2 separate regions of the Homo sapiens genome follow, and region 2 is linked to region 1. Evidence: fine-mapped expression QTL. A gene starts in region 1. The other region holds a variant in brackets. All regions are shown on one strand. Distances are between the middles of the regions. Region 1 holds the start of FBH1 (F-box DNA helicase 1). Region 2 holds the start of LOC105376384 (a long non-coding RNA gene).

Region 1 (8,328 bases):
CCCCGGGATCCTCTCACATCTGAGACACCTGTGACTCCCTTGGAGACAGCACTCGTGTATGACAGCCAACAAGGATGGGCTGGGCTTTCCGTTCTATGTTTTTCCTAAAGAAAGAAAGGAATGTTTGAAAAACAAGAGAAAGATCACTACTTATGGTCTAGAATATAATTTTATATATTTGAAAGGCTTTTTCTACAGTCAATTCATTCCACAACTACTTTTACGTATCTGCTATGTCCCAGATTCATTTTAAACTCCATGAGAGCTTTGTCTTATGGTATCCTTGGTGTTAAATGCTATTTTAGACATTAGTGATACAAAAGTGAATAAGCCTACCCATAAGGCAGCTACCAAAACAAACACAAGTTACTAAAGATAAAGTAATATAACAACTACATAAATGCATGCATGAAGTGTTATGATAGTAAAGAAACATAAATAGAGTTAGGCAAGTTGAAAAAGGCTTCACGAAGAGTTGAGTCTTGAAAGAATCATGGGATTCAGTAAGGCGGAAGGAAACAATGTGTGCAAAAATACAGAGGCATTAACAATGCACTAGAGTGGCAGGAAAGCTGGGCTTCATCAAAACAAGAGGTTCCCTGATGAGGAATGACAGGAGATAAGGCTGGAAAAGGAATTTGGAGCCACAGACTACAAAGGTCCTTACACATAATGATAAAGAAATTGGGCTTCAAAAAAAGAAATTGGACTTTATCAGGTAGGGGCTTCAAGGTATCATCCAATTTTGTTTGTTTGTTTGTTTTTTGTTTTCAGACAGAGTCTCACTCTGTCTGTGGTCCAGGCTGGGGTACAATGGCACAGTCTCGGCTCATTGCAACCTCCGCCTCCCAGGTTCAAGTGATTCTCCTGCCTCAGTCTTCCGAGTAGCTGGGACTACAGGTGCACACCGCCACAGCCAGCTAATTTTTTGTATTTTAGTAGAGATAGGATTTCACCGTGTTGCCCAGGCTGGTCTAGAACTCCTGAGCTCAGGCAATACACCTGCCTCGGCCTCCCAAAGTGGTAGGATTACAGGCGTCAGCCACCGCGCCCGGCCTCATCCAATTTTTAAAGCAGGGTCATTACACAATCAAATTTACACTTTAGGACAGTGACTCGGGAGAGAGGATAGAAGGTGGAGAGACATGGAGATTGTCAGGAAAACAACTCAGAAAGCCACCATATCAACCTATGTGAGAATTGGCAAAGGCCTGAGAGTAGCAGACCCTGCAGGTGCATAAGAACATGGCTTTGTTTGACAAGACAGAAAGATAAAAGATAAAGAGCAACAAGGATAACTGGCATTTCTAGTAGAACATTCAAAGAGATGTTAATGTCATTAACCATGTTAAGGAATAAAAGAGAAACAGTGTTTGTGTTTTAATCACTTTTTCCCCCGGAGTGAGAGGGAGGCTGAAAGTCCTAGTTTTAAAAATAATTTCTGGCTTTAAGTTATCTGTGGAATACCATGTTTATGCTCCAGGAGGTCCTCTGAAATCTGAGACTGGTCTTCAAAAGGCATGTGAATGACAGTTACAGATATAAGATTTGAGATGCTTTCTAAAAGTAGGTAATTTCACAGCCAGAAAGGCAAAGATGGAATCCAAATTCAGTTTCCAAATAAAATCAGCCTAGGAGGGATAGAGGAATGAGATAAGCAGCAAAAAGATGATGTCAACAAACCCAAAATTAGAATTCTAAATCTAATACCAATAGTGGTGTCTACACACACTCACAAATCACGAAACCTGTCAAATGATCAGTGTACCAATGGGCATGCTCAACAGCATACCCATGAAAAACAGGAGGAAAAGGAAGGGCAGCCAAGGAGCAAGTCGGTGCCAATGACGACTACATGTGACGTGACTGTAAAGGCCAGACCACAACCTCCAAAAGTCTGCACGAAAGAAATGAGCAGCCCAACCGGAAAACAGCAAGACCCAGGAAACAGCTCCATCCATTAGCTTACTGTTCAGATCCCGCCCCTCTAGACCAAGCTTTTGCCCAGAAAATCACAGGAGCTGCGGGACAGATTCACATACATTATCATTTAGTTATCCAAAGGGGGATACAGAGCAAAGAAGGTTCATAGAGAAGACACAAGAGGCAGAATCGAATGTGCAACACCAATGAAGTAACCAATTATCCTGGGTTCAAATATTCCAACCTGGCTAGGCACGGTGGCTCACGCCTGTAATCCCAGCATTTGGGAGGCCGAGCTGGGTGAATTACTTGAGGCCAGGAGTTTAAAGACCAGCCTGGCCAACATGGTGAAACCCCGTCTCTACTAAAAATACAAAAAAATTAGCCGAGCATGGTGGCACACGCCTGTAATCCCAGCTACTCGGGAGGCTGAGGCAGGAGAATTGCTTGAACCCGGGAGGGGGAGGTTGCAGTGAGCCGAGATCGTGCCACTGCACTCCACCCGGAGCAACAGAGCGAGACTCTGTCTCAAAATATATATATATATTCCAACCTACTGTGAACCCGTGTGTCCCAATTATGTTTAAAAAACAGGGAAACTAGAGACATAATGCAAGAGAAGATAGTCATCTGAAACTGGGAGAGGGGCAGGGGTAAAAGCAAAAAGCATGAAGCTACCAGATGCCTCAACTTCCAATTTGCACTAACTTCAACGGCAGCAGAACACTGCTTGGCACGCCCTACACTTTTGTGCATTTCAAACAACTTTTATGCCTTCCTTTTTTTCTTTTGCTGGAGTGACAAGGCACGACAGAACAATAACCTGAGCAAAGCTGGTACTTGGACTAGTTCTGTCTCCAGAGGCTATCCACATCACTGTTACCTTAACCAAACTCAATCTGCTCATGAGTAAAACGGACTTATCTTCATGGGCCCATTCCAGAAGTCTTTTCATTTATCTCCGCTCATTTTACCACAGCGGCAGACGCTGGCGGACACTCAACACATGCTACCATCCTGCCTTCCAGAAGACTTTATTACCTGTAATTCTGTAAGAAAGTCACTGACTTGGTTAGGCCTCCACTTCCCCACCTGTAAAACCCTACTGATGCCTCATAGGGTTGTCTTCGGACCACAGACTGCAATAAAAAATGTAAACGGCACTCGTTTTTAGGCCTGGCAAATAGGAGCTACTCCCATTCTACTCCCTAAAGGAATCGAAAACATGGAGAGGTTAAGTGACTGGCACCTAATCAGATCGGGTAAGGAACCCAACACCTACTGATCTCTTCCATCACCCACAGCCTGCCCAGCTCTCGCCGTGCCCTCCACCAGCGCCAGGCCTCCCACATCGCCTTAGGCTTCCCATGCTCAGAGGAGGGGCAGAGAAGCTACCGATGACACAGGGGCAGAGGGCAGCGAAAAATGACTTGCCCAAGGTCAAAACGTCAGAGTAGACGGGAAAGCCTGGCCTCCTAGCAGCCGAGGCCACGTCCCCGCGCTTGCCCCTTCAGCCCCGAGGACCCACACGCTGCGCCTTCCTGGCCTCGGGGGGCAGCGCGGGGGCCGCTCCCGACCGAGTTCAGTGAGCGCCCTGGCCTCCCCCGCGCACCCCCGCCGCGCCCTCCACCTGCCCACGGCCCGGACGGCCGAGCCCCCACGCCCGCGCTTGCCCGAGCCCAGCCTCGCGCCCCCGGGGCCCCCGCTGCCCCACCCCGGGCCCGGACCCCCCGCGCAGGACCCCGGAGGTTAAGTTTTCCACACGGCGGAGCCCCTCCCACACTCCCTGCCACGTCTGCGGCCTCACGCACTGTGGCGCTCCGGACCCGGACCCCGCTGCCGCCGCCGCCGGGCCCGCGCCGCCGGCCGCTCAGCCCAGCGTCCCCCGGCAGCGAGCTCCTCCTCTGGCCGGGACCTGGAGCCCGAGACGCCCGCCGACTTCCTCCGCGAGCTCCGCCCCGCCGCAGCCCCGGGAAGCGCCCGCCGCCGGAGCCGGACTGACGGCCCCCGCGACCAATCGGGACGCGAGACCGGAGGGGGCGTGCTGACGGACGGCCACTAACGCCAATCGAAATGCGCAATCGGTGGGGGCGCGGCCACAGCTACCGGGCCACGCCCCATCCGCGCTTCCGCTCGGGCCGGGGCGGAGCGGGAAACTTTCCCAGAGTTCCTTCGAGCTCCCCGAGTCCCCGCGGAGCAGCGGCGGTCGAGGGGCGGGGACGGGGGCGGAGCCCAGGAACGCCGGCCCCCAGGGGCTGGAGGCTGGGGCGGCCCTGAGGACGCGTGCGGGGCAGGTCACGCTTGGGCCTGGCTGCCTCAGGAGCCACCCTGCACGGCGCCGGGCGAGGCTGTGCGCGCCCTCCCGGACCCTCCACTTTGGGGCTTTGCGGTGTAGCGGCGCGCCCCACTCCCTTACGTGTTCAGTCCCGAATCACGTACGGGCCGCTGCAGCTCCAGGACGGCGGACGCCAGCGCTCTCGGATCCCCAGGCCCCTCCGTGCTCATCCCGGACCGCTCCGTCCCTGAGGAAAAACCGCCCCGTGCCCGGAACCGCGGCTTCTCCCACGCGGGGCAGGCCGGGGCTGTGAGGGGGCAGCCCGCCTGCGGACTAGGCCGGGGGTTTGAGGAGGCGGCTCTGCCGGGGACAAAGCCGGGGGCGTGAGGGGCGGTTCTGCCGGGTTCGGGGCGCGCGGGGCAGGTTGCGTGAAGAGGCGGAAAGTCCCACTCGCCCTCGGCTTCTCCCTGCCCGGCCGCCGGTGTCCCGCCCGCCGCCTCCCCGCGCAGCCCGGCCCGACCCGCGGCGATGGCCCAGCCCGGGGACCCGCGGCGCCTCTGCAGGCTGGTGCAGGAGGGCCGGCTGCGCGCCCTGAAGGAGGAGCTGCAGGCGGCCGGGGGCTGCCCGGGGCCGGCCGGGGATACCCTCCTGCACTGCGCCGCGCGCCACGGGCATCGGGACGTGCTGGCCTATCTGGCCGAGGCCTGGGGCATGGACATCGAGGCCACCAACCGAGACTACAAGCGGCCTCTGCACGAGGCGGCCTCCATGGGCCACCGAGACTGCGTGCGCTACCTGCTGGGCCGGGGGGCAGCGGTCGACTGCCTGAAGAAGGCCGACTGGTAGGTGTGGAGCGGAAAGACACCCCGCCTCCCCTCTACTCGCAGAGTCGTAGCGAGTTCCCTGTGCTTCTCCGTCCCCTTGGACACCGTAGCTGTTCTCAGCTCCTAGTTCTCACCCCAGGCCTGCTCAGCGGCAGGGACCTCCTGCCCAACTTTCCCTTATAACGCAGATGACCTGCAGAGTCCCTCGTTCCTGCCCTTGTGGGTTAACTGGTCGGGGCAGTCACCTCCCTTTCTAGAGCACGGAATAGTGTAGAATATAACCAAAGAGAATGTTACCAAACAATGAAGTGTGTGCACTATACAGATAGCCTCCGGATGCGATGTTCTGGGGACATTTAGCTAAGTTACTTCTGCACCAATGCATTGTTTCAAGTGGCATTGCTCCAATCAATATCCAGAATTCCTGAGTTATACACGCGCTCGTGTGTGTAGAGCACAGTGCAGTTGTATCACATACGTGCAGCCTTGCATAACCACCACAGTCAGAGATACTCTGCTCCACCATCACACAAGCCAATTGCATTTCGTTTGTTAGATTGACACTGATTTTAGTACTCACTAGGTCAGGTTCGTTAGAGGGCGTGAACATCTTTAGGAACATAGGGAAGTACATCTTCCCCACTGGGGCAGGGGAATAGACTTCGTTATGTGTTGAGGGTTGTCTGTGGGTTTTCTTAGCTCTGCTCCAATTCACTGCTATCCTGTGAACTAGCTTATAAGCTGCTTTGTCTCCCAGGCACCCTCTCCTCTAGGTACACGTTCGTTACAATCATTTTCCCCTTATTATTTCTCCCAGGGTCCTCACAGAAGGCACAGAGGTTGCCGGTCAAAGCTGTTTTCCTGCCTGCCAGACCCCTGAATCCTCTAGGTTTTCCATCTGTGCCAAGGATGTGTGTGTTTTGAAGACCTGGCCCCTGGCTTCTAATGTCTCAGCTGCCTCCATCTGACAGCTTCTCCTGGTTGGCCTTAGGACTCCTCTGATGATGGCCTGCACAAGGAAGAACCTGGGGGTGATCCAGGAGCTGGTGGAACATGGCGCCAATCCACTCCTGAAGAACAAAGATGGCTGGAACAGTTTCCACATTGCCAGTCGAGAAGGCGACCCTCTGATCCTCCAGTACCTGCTCACTGTTTGCCCAGGTGCCTGGAAGACAGAGAGCAAAATTAGAAGGACTCCTCTGCATACTGCAGGTACAGCCTACAGCTCTGCAGGTGAGCAGTACACACATGTGGCTGCTTCACCCAGCACTGCCCAACCGCATCTTGTTCAGGTCACCTTCAGGGGAAAGGAGGATTTTGGAAAACAGAAGGCAGAGAATAAGAACATCTGGGGGGGAGGGGGTGGGGGCGGGGGCGCGGGTGCAGTGGCTCACGCCTGTAATCCCAGCACTTTGGGAGGCCGGAGGCGGGTGGATCACCTGAGGTCAGGCGTTCAAGACCAGCCTGGCCAACATGGTGAAACGCCGTCTCTACTAAAAATACAAAAAATTAGCCGGGCGTGGTGGCGGCTGCTTGTAATCCCAGCTACTGGGGAGCTCCAGAGTCTGAGGCAGGAGAATGGCTTGAACCCAGGAGGCAGAGGTTGTACTAAGCCAAGATTGCACTACATTACACTACAGCCTGGGCAACAAGAGCAAAACTCCATCTCAAAAAAAAAAAAAAAGCATCTAGGGGCCTTTTGGCATATAATCAATTTCTAAAGTTAACATAACTTGGCTAGCATGCTGTGGTATTAATTTATTTTTCGTGTGTATCTGTGTTATCCTCCCTAGATTATTTGCCCATGAGCTGGTTCTGTAGCACATAGTCTTTGACCTTGGGTAAGGAAATTAGTCTCTCTCTTGAGCAAGTTTCCTCATCAACCAAATAATAATGTCAGTGATGGTATGTCTCAGGGTTGTTGTAGAGTTTAAAGAGCATGATGTATGTAAATCCTTTAGACAATGCTTGGCACATAGCACAAAATAACTGGTTAGTGCTATTTTCTTTATCATGTTTACATTCTTACTCTTAAAGGCAGGAGGGAAATATATATCCTCATAGCCTTAGTAACACCTACCATAGTGCTATACTTTTAAATAAATATAGATACTCATAATTAAATACCTTGGCCCAATAACATCTAATGTAAATTTGGGTTACAGTTTTTATTATTTGGAGTAGTGACTCTTAACTCTGAATTATCTATTTGTAGATTATTTTAGTAAAAAGTTTCAATTTGCTCATTTGTTTGAAGAAAGTAAAAAGAAAACAATTAGTAAAAAGTAAAATTACTGTAATTTCAGAAGTTAGATATTAAGGAGCTCAAGAGTCTAGATTAAGAAATTCAGAATATAACTTGTAGCTTTCTAGGTAGTACATTGATTAGGATAGAGGGCTTTTAGTTTCTCTAAAAATCATCACTTGTGATGTTTTATAGTGTTGCTTTTTGTCTTTTGTTTTTTTTTGAGACAGAGTCTTGCTCTGTCACCCAGGCTGGAATACAGTGGCACGATCTCGGCTCACTGCAACCTCTGCCTCGCAGGTTCAAGCAATTCACGTGCCTCAGTCTCCCGAGAAGCTGGGATTACTGGCGCATGCCACCATGCCCAGCTAATTTTCATATTTTTAGTAGAGATGGGGTTTCCCCTTGTTGGCCAGGCTGGTCTTGAACTCCTGACCTGAAGTGATCCACCCACCTTGGCCTCCCAAAGTGCTGGGATTACAGGCATGAGCCACAGTTGGCAATTAGGGACCAAGGAATCATTTCTAAAACTTCTTAAGTAAGTAGAAAACTTTTTTTTAGCTCATGAATTATTTGACCAGTTTCTCCCCTGGAGAAACAATCAGCACTCCATCATTCACCCAAAATAGTGGAAGACAAATAGTCATAACCTTTGAGTATAGTTACTTTTAGTAGGGGAATTAAATCCAGGCTATTTTGCCATGGATTACTGTTACAATATTTTGCATTTCCTGGGCAAAAATGGACTAGTCTTGGGGATCCACAGCACAGAAGTGTAACTTTAGGATTGAAAGTTTCCCATGAAAGTGCACGTGAAGATAAGATAATCAAGTGTTGGCTGTGTACATATAAAGTGAAAACATTATTGTTTACCGCTTTATCCAGTTAAATATTTATTCGTGTAGGGCGGTAACAGTGTACCCAATTTAATGACTCCTTCTTGTAAGCTATCACTAATAGAACGGGGCAGAGAGCAAAGCCAGGAGGCAGGAAGCATTTTGTGTGTGCACTAAAAAGCTCTAATTCTCAGCTTTCTTTCTCCTCCCAGCAATGCATGGCCA
Region 2 (8,328 bases), 55 kb before region 1:
CCATTCTAGTGGTGCTGTTCTTAGCTATTCAGGATGAAACACCTCCTCCTCTCCTGAAACCGTCCGTCCCTCATCCTGACTTGCAGCTCACAGAGAAAAGTGACATACCTGAGGCTCTCTGTCAATTACAAGGCTCCTCCTGGCGTGGGAGATGTCTATAGGGAAGACACCAGCGTTTGGGCTCCTCCCAATGACCCTGTCTCCAGCTGTGCTGCACGCACTGACAGGGAGCCGGAAAAGGTGGAGGAGATGCTAAGCCCAGTGAATCCTCTCCATCGAAGGATTCAGGAAGAAGAAAACTCATCTCAGCGCCATTTTACATATATATGCATTTATACTTCCTTGTCTGTTATATCTACACATTATATATGATTTGTATTTTGACATTGTGCCTTGTATAAACAAAATAAAATATATATTTTCAATATTTTAAAATGCATTAAAAGAATCACCAAGGATGGCCGGGCAGGGTGGCTCATGCCTGTAATCCCAGTACTTTGGGAGGCCGAGGCGGGTGGATCACCTGAGGTCAGGAAATTGAGACCAGCCTGGCCAACATGGTGAAACCCCATCTCTACTAAAAACACAAAAATTAGCCTGGCGTGGTGGTGAGCGTCTGTAATCCCAGCTATTTGGGAGGCTGAGGCAGGAGAATCACTTGAACTCTGGGGGTGGAGGTTGCAGTGAGCCGAGATCATACCCCTGCACTCCAGCCTGAGAGACGCAGCGAGACTCCAATTCAAAAAAAAAAAAAAAATCACCAAGGAGAAATGTTCCACACAAAGGAGGAGAAAGAATGGGAATGCAGAATTCCACTGGGGCTCCTCCATCCTGTTGGGGTGCCTCATCACCCACTGACACAGACGGGCTGACCTCCCCTCTCCCTGCTCTCCCCACGCGTGGGCACCTGGCCTGGGCGTGGCCTCCAGGGCCTCTCAGCTAGACTACAAAGCTGTTGAATACAGAGAATGAAGAGCACAGAACTCACAGGGCAGTGGCCAGCAGTGGCCTCAGAAGCTCTGACTGGCTGCTGGGCCTCCTGTTCTGGGCTCTCCAGGCGTCTTTAGGTCCTAACCATATTCCAAACCTAAGCCTCCCATTTTCCGGGATTCTATGAGCCCCTCGTATCTTTCCAATACATTTTTTTTTCTTTATAACAGATTCTGTTTTCATTACTTGTCACTGAAAAGTTCCTAGCTGATATGAAATTCGGTACCAGGAGTGGGTATTGCAAATTATGGAGAAGAGGGGAGATAAGGAGTGTCTGCGGCTGGTTATCTGCCTTAGGGACGAGAGAAAAGAGTGAATGTTCTGATGATATGCAGAGACAGGAATGGAGCGGCCCAGGGAATTCGGTAATTAGTTCGCCAGGAGGTGCCTGGGATGTCATGCCTGCTGCAAGCCTGGCTCTCAGAGACTATGTTGCGTCCATCCTGAAATCGTATGGATATGAGAAATCTGAGCCCATAGTGGGTAGCTGCTTTTAATGTCACTGAAAAACTTAGAGAATAAGAAGTTCAAATCTCTAAAGTCTGAATTCAAGCCACAGGCTGAAACCTAAAGACTGCCTAGAACAACGCGGAATTTCATTCCTTACAGATGCGAGGCCAGGATATCTGAAAACCCATCTTAAGAGTCTGAGCCTTTGGCTGGGCGCCGTGGCTCATGCCTGTAATCCAAACACTTTGGGAGGCCGAGGCAGGTGGATCGCTTGAGTCCAGGAGTTCAAGACCAGCCCAAACAACATGGCGAAACCCCTGTCTCTACAAAAAATACAAAAATTAGCCAGTTGTGGTGGCATGTGCCTGTAGTCCCAGCTACTCAAGAGGCTGAGGTGGGAGAACTGCTTGAGCCCAGGAGGTAGCAGTGAGCCGAGATCATGCCACAGCACTCCAGCCTGGATGACAGAGGAGACACAGTCTCCAAAAAAAAACAACAGTCTAAGCCGTCAAGTTGTTGGAAGAACATTAGCTGAATCCATGGCCCCAGCAGGTTTCCCAGCTGAAGGGAGAGCACTGATTGGAGAAGGGCGAGGTTCCTGTACTGGATTAAAAATGTAGGGGGACATTTGGAGGACTCACAGGATCCCCCACCCTCCCTTGTCCTCAGAAGCAGCCCTCTGTTCTGCCTGACAATGCTGCAACATTGCCTCCTGCTCGAGGGGGGCATCTTGCAAAAGGAAGTCTGTTCTGCTGACAATTTCCTCCCCCTGTCCCATTCTGCATGGGGAGAAAACTTTGCTGAGAATCCCAATCAGACCCTCAGGATCCCAGGAATCAGCCTGTTCCGTGGAAACAAGAGCTCCCCAAGGCTGGGCCGGGCCCTGCTGCAAGCACCTCCACCCCCACGTCCCACCTGCGGCCTCCTCACAGGCCAAGCCCGTAGCCAATGCCCAATGCCCCTGTCCTTCCTTCACAGTCTCCTACATCCAACTCACCTTCCAGAACCAGATCAAGTTTACCTTCTCCAGGAGCCTCTGTTGTTTCAGTTTTGGAGGGTTTTTTTTTTTGAGACAGAGTCTCGCTCTGTCGCTCAGGCTGGAGTGCAGTGGCACGATCTCCACTCACTGCAACCTCCGCCTCCCGAGTTCAAGCGATTCTCCTGCCTCAGCTTCCTGAGTAGCTGGGACTACAGGTGCGTGCCACCATGCCCAGCTAATTTTTATATTTTTGATAGAGACAGGGTTTCGCCATGTTGTCCAGGCTGATCTGGAACTCCTGATCTCAAGTGATCCACCCGCCTTGGCCTCCCATAGTGCTGGGACTACAGGCGTGAGCCACCATGCCCAGCCCCGGAGCCTTGGCTAATGACTCAGTTGTACAAAATCATTTGCCTCTGAGCCTTCATAACACTTATTATCGGTGCTATTCATGTGGCATCTGCAAAATACTATCTTTGTGCAGTGGAAAGAAGATAGAACTTAAAAGCCTGAGTGTCGAGCATCCATTCTACCCTTTGCTGAGCATCCATTCTACCCTTTGCTGGCCCTGTCACTTGGAGACACTACACACACGGACATTGCCTCATCTTTGTAGTGGGGATGACGGCACATGCACTCCCTTCCCAGAGG[C/T]GTGAGGGTCACAGGAGACCCTGGCGTCTGTCTCTCCCCTCGCTAGCCACTAGAGATCCTGACAGTTAAGCCTGGTACTAATCCTCAAGAAGTTTACAGCCTGGTCAAAAAGAGAAGCATACCGGAACAAATATGAAACAAAACCTTACACCACAAGCACACACACTAATGGGACACGAGCCCAGTAAAGGCAGAAATGGCTCCAAGGCCTGGAAGCTTGAGGAATGCAGGATGTGAGTTGGAAGGATGGGTGGAATTTAAATAAACGGGCAGGGAGCATTCTAAATGGTGGGGGGGGGCGGTGGAGGCAAAAACCCAAACAGGAAATTGAGCAACACGTTCAGGAAAGACAGAGCATGGCTGCTGGGCAGCCAGGTCAACCGGACGGCAAGGCAGGGGTTGGCCGGGGAAGCACTGCGCCGCCCCTGCATGCCCTGCATCCTCGGGTCCTGGGAGGGCTGCTCAGTAACTGGAAGGAAAATGAAACTGAAAAAGAGCAAGGGTCCCGTAGGATTGAACACAGTTGGTGAAACTTGGGCCGTCTGCCTCAAGTCCCCGCTTGGCAAAACCACTCCCTCCTGGTGGACGCCCTCACCATGAAGGTTAGTGCTTCTCTTTCTGAAGCTGTGTCTTCATTCCTCTGGGCAGAGAGCCAACAGTCCTAGTTACAGAAGTGTATAACTGGGTGCCATGGCTCACCTAGGGTCCCAGCTACTCAGGAATCTGAGGTGGGAGGATCGCTTGAGCCCAGGAGCATGAGGCTGCAGTGAGCGGTGATCGCGTCACTGCGCTCCAGCCTGGGCGACAGAGTGGGACTCTTGTCTCCAAAATAATTCAAAAATGGGGTGTAATCTTCAAAATCTCCTTGGAGTTAATGCCACCCAGAGGGTACTCAAATTGCTGTCAGTGTCCCGGGGCTGCAGTGGCTGCAGGTGTTTTCCAAGTGTTCTGGGAAGCCCTGGTGGCTGCAGAGGCACCTGAGGGGCCACCACAGGCGGGAGCGGAGAAGGAACTCTGGGTGCCCATCCCCCTCCTGAGTGACCACAGCGGCTGCATTTGTTAACTGGAAGTAAAATTAAGCCTAAAGAATTCCATGGCTAAGAACATCTGAAAGCCTTCCATGCTATTAAATATTTATTTTATTGTTCATCCTGGACTCCATAGGCAGATGCTTTAAAAAAACAAACAAACTGATCTTTTGGAAGAGTTCTAACTCCAACTCTTCACACAGTGGTAGTGGAAATACTATGGGTTTGGGATTGAACTTGAGTTTTCATCCAAGCTCTGCTCTGTGATACTGAGCACAGTGGGCCCAGCCCCGTGACTCTTTAGAGCCTGTTTCTTCATCTGCAAATGGCGGCTGTCATCTGCCTCCCAGGTTTGCTGTGAGGACTGAAGGAATTCACATACACAAAGGCCTGATAGCGTCTACCTGCAGGAGGCTCCTAATAAACGTTGAGTTCACTTCCTTAATGAGGTATATTTACTTACATGGTAATCAGCACCTGCCCCTTCCTTCGCAAATACATTCCCACTTTTTTAGGATTTATTATTTCACCCAGCCGTGTGCATCATGGAAAGCTGACCTCATCCCAAGCTCCAGGAAATAAAACCCTGATGATTTGAAGCCATTCTTCCTTACTATGATTGGCTTAGGAGTGGGCAGGTAGCCCAGTTCTGACCAACAATATGTGAGTCAGCTGGAGAAGCCTGTGGGAAAGGCTTTCTTGCGCCTCTTCCCAGACAAAACCAGGTCCAGCTGCTTGTTCTCATGGTCCAATAACAAGCTGCAGACAGAGTGGGGAAGAAGGGAGTTTATTTCTGGTTACAGGGAGAAGGTCAGAGTAACTCACCAGACTAATTTAAAATTATAAGTTTTTTTTCAGTGCTTATACACATTTAAACCATATGCCTATGTGCAGGAGTACACCTCCAAGCTGAAGTATATTCCTCTGTTTAATCTTTCACTAGGGTCTGGGGTCTGGAAAATTACTTCAGAGCCTTGAAACAATTACTTCATTTTTTTTCTTTCTTATTTTAGAGGGAGGGTCTCACTATGTTGCCCAGGCTGGTCTTGAACTCCTGGGCTCAAGCGACCCTCCTCCCTCAGCCTCCCAAAGTGCTGGGATTGCGGGCGTGAGCCGCTGCTCCTGGCCCAATTACTTAATTTAAAGTGGATCATGGTACAAGGTCCACAAGAACGCCTCCATTATTTTAATTAAACTCTAAGGTCTGGGAGAAAGCCCAGGTGGGGTCTTAATCGACTTGTTTTTACACTCTAGCCTTTGTATTAAGGCACCAGTTTCTCCAATTTTCCTCGTTTAATTTATATATTCCTCAGAGTTATAGTAAGGTGTTGGTGAGGCTGGCTGCTCTGGTTGCTAAGAGAGACCCGGCCTGCCACACTCCTAAGAGACACAGAAGACCAGCCTACCCTTCCCTTGCCTCCCGTGACACTGCCCTGCAGGTGGCTGGCCAAGAGAAGCCTGCCCGGCGACGCTGAGGCACCGAACATGAGCAGGGGAGGAAGGAATGCCTGGGAGCAGCTGAGCCGAGCCCCTGCCACCAGCCTCCTCCGCACGCCCGTGGAATCAGCACTTTCTGCTTCCCGCCCCTGAGAGCCTTGCTCTGGGGCCACTCACAGCCAATTAAGTGGGGATGTTGTAAGAGACTCTAAAATACGTGGAGCTGGCTGAGGACGCGGGACCGACCCCATTATGTGTGTGTGAGGCTGATTAAAGTGTTACCTGTCACCAGGTGTCGCCAATTCTTGGTGAAGCTCTCTCCATGTGACCTCCATGCTACTTATTTTTTATTTTATTGTTCATCCTGGACTCCAAAGGCTGATGCTATTTTTTTTTTTAATGTGATCTTTTGGAAGAGTTCTAACTGCAACTCTTCACATAGTGGTAGTAGAATATACCATGGGTATTAAAAACTAAAGCATTTCTTAATCTGTGGGGTCCAGATTAGGAAGACATGTATTAGGAAAATGATTACTTTAAAAAAAATAAAAAATTCAGGCCAGGCATAGTGGCTCACGCCTGTAATCCCAGCACTTTGGGAGGCTGAGGCAGGTGGATCACCTGAGGTCAGGAGTTCAAGACCAGCCTGGCCGACATGGTGAAACCCCGTCTCTACCAAAAATACAAAAATTAGCTGGTTGTGGTCACATATGCTTGTAATTCCAGCTACTTGGGAGGCTGAGACAGGAGAATCGCTTGAACCCGGGAGGCAGAGGTTGCAGTGAGCGGAGATCTCACCACTGCACTCCAGGCTGGGTGACAGAGTGAGGCTCTGTCTCAAAAAAAAAAAAAAAAAAGAAAAGAAAAAAAAATCAGAACCACTGAATTGTACATTTAAAAAAGGAAGAAAAGAAAAATCCAGGATGTCAGCACTGTGCTGGCCGCTTCCTGGGGCCCTCAGTGAGTTCCTTTAAAAGACAGGCTTAGGGTGACAGAGGCCAGCCTGGAAATGGACAGGAAACGCCAGCCTTTCCGCTGCGGTCCAACTTGGGCTGACGCCCTCATCGCAACAGGAGAGCCCTGCAGGGTTGAGGCAGGAGGGTGACCGGCGTTAGTCTTCATTGTAAGATTGCAGGTCCCTCTACATGGGAGCGAGTTGGGCCAGGGCAGAGGCACAGAGCAACATAGACTACAACTGGTCCAGGAGGCAGAACGGTGGAGGGTCGCGGGCGGGTGGGTGGTGCACCCTGGAGGCCGCGTGGAGCTTCCCAGTGAACTGGCATGAAGAAAAGTATCACAGCCCGATGGTGGTGCTGTTTCTGGAGGTGGGGAAGGGTGCGTGGAGGAGCCAGCCAGGCTCGGAAGGAAATCAGGGGCTGCATGTGGGACATGGCAGGGCTGAGATGTCACGAAGACAGCAAATGGAGTGATCGACTGGCGACCTTGGCGTTTGAGTGGGAAGCCCCCCTCCCTCCACCTAACCTACCTCTCAGCCCACGCCACTAGGGATAAAACACACACAGGTCCCCAGTGAGGAGGATCGCAGGGGACGGCACCTCCTGGGCCCTCATGGAGAACCTGTCCCTTAAGTAGGCCAGGCAGAGGGAGAGCCCCTGCCGGCTAAGGGAGCCCTGCCCCCCACACCAGCCCAGCTGTGCAGAGGTGCCTTGGCCAGGGGCGTGCGTGTAGCACTGTCTTCATGTCTGGGCAAGGAGCTGGAGGAACCCTGCCTGCCTCGGTTCAGACGTCTCTACCGCACCCACTCACTGCAAATGTAGAGTGATCAGCTTCCAGGCTCTCGGTGTACCCCACATTGCTAAAGCCAGGGGTTCAGGGTGACTAGGAAGGACTGAAGGGCAAGGATCAGACTTGAAAAACATGTTAAATTGCTAATAGTCTGATTCTAGGGGTGTCAAAGTCCCTTTGTGATACAGTGAGTTGCTCCCAGACACAGACCAAATGCCACTACAGGACGGAAGCTGGGCAGGCAGCGTGACAGTGACCAGCTTCCCAGGCAGGAAGGTCCCACGGGGGTGCTGCACTGCCTTAAGTTTATTAAGCTGTGTCTGAGTCCACCATGCGACGTCTCTGCCCTCATGCCTGGGCTGCTAAAGGAAAAATACCAGCTAAAAGGATGGTGTTTGATGTCAACTGGGAGGGTGCTGCCCGGCACACCTGTGTTTTCCGTCACCTTCCACTCCATTCCCTTCTATGTCCATCCCAAACGCTAAACCCAGCACTTTGGGAGACTGAGGCAGGTGGACAGCTTGAGCCCAGGAGTTTCAGACCAGCCTGGGCAACAGAGCGACACCTCATCTCTACAAAAAATAAGCAAAAATTAGCCGGGCATGGTGGCATGCACCTGTAGTCCCAGCTACTTGAGGGGCTGAGGTGGGAGGGTCACCTGGGCCTGGAGGTCAAGGCTACAGTGAACTGTCACTGCACCACTGCACTCCAGCCTGAGTGACAGAGTAAGACCCTGTCTCAAAAAAACCAGAAAATTATTGGGTGAGAGCAACCTAAACTTCCTCCCTAACCACTTACAACGTACCCCTTTCTCCTTCATCTCTCCCGTCCCAATCCCTCTCATCTGGCTTCCATCTCTCCTCTCTGAATTTGCTTCCTCTCAACACATAACCCTGCACAAACCTCTCTCGTTTTAAAAGCAAAAACCCCTCCCTAAGGCCACGTCATCCCCTATCCACTTCTTGCCTCTTGCCAGCCTTGCTTTCTGAGAACTAGTCTACGTGGTGTCCGTATCTTCACCTCCCACTGGTATTTTATGGTTCTATC

Evidence for each region. PIP is the estimated chance that this variant, and not a neighbour inherited with it, causes the effect.
Region 2: its variant is fine-mapped to the expression of FBH1 in whole blood (TOPMed, PIP above 0.99). The same link has a PIP of 0.9 or more in neutrophils.

The regions. Positions count from the first base shown.
Region 1 is chr10:5,885,753-5,894,080 of GRCh38, reverse strand. FBH1 (F-box DNA helicase 1) reads right to left here and starts at 3,838. Exons shown (of 21, transcript NM_178150.3): 1 at 3,735-3,838. The coding sequence starts at 3,735. It overlaps ANKRD16 (ankyrin repeat domain 16), which reads left to right and starts at 4,188. Exons shown (of 8, transcript NM_019046.3): 1 at 4,188-5,040; 2 at 6,014-6,234; 3 at 8,316-8,328. The coding sequence starts at 4,727. RefSeq lists silencers at 3,406-3,455, 3,646-4,365, 4,506-4,615, 4,626-4,905.
Region 2 is chr10:5,940,999-5,949,326 of GRCh38, reverse strand. LOC105376384 (a long non-coding RNA gene) reads left to right here and starts at 3,413. Exons shown (of 2, transcript NR_188180.1): 1 at 3,413-3,672. It also overlaps a transcript of IL15RA not described here. RefSeq lists an enhancer at 3,654-4,212. The variant C/T (reference allele first, on the strand shown) is at 3,071.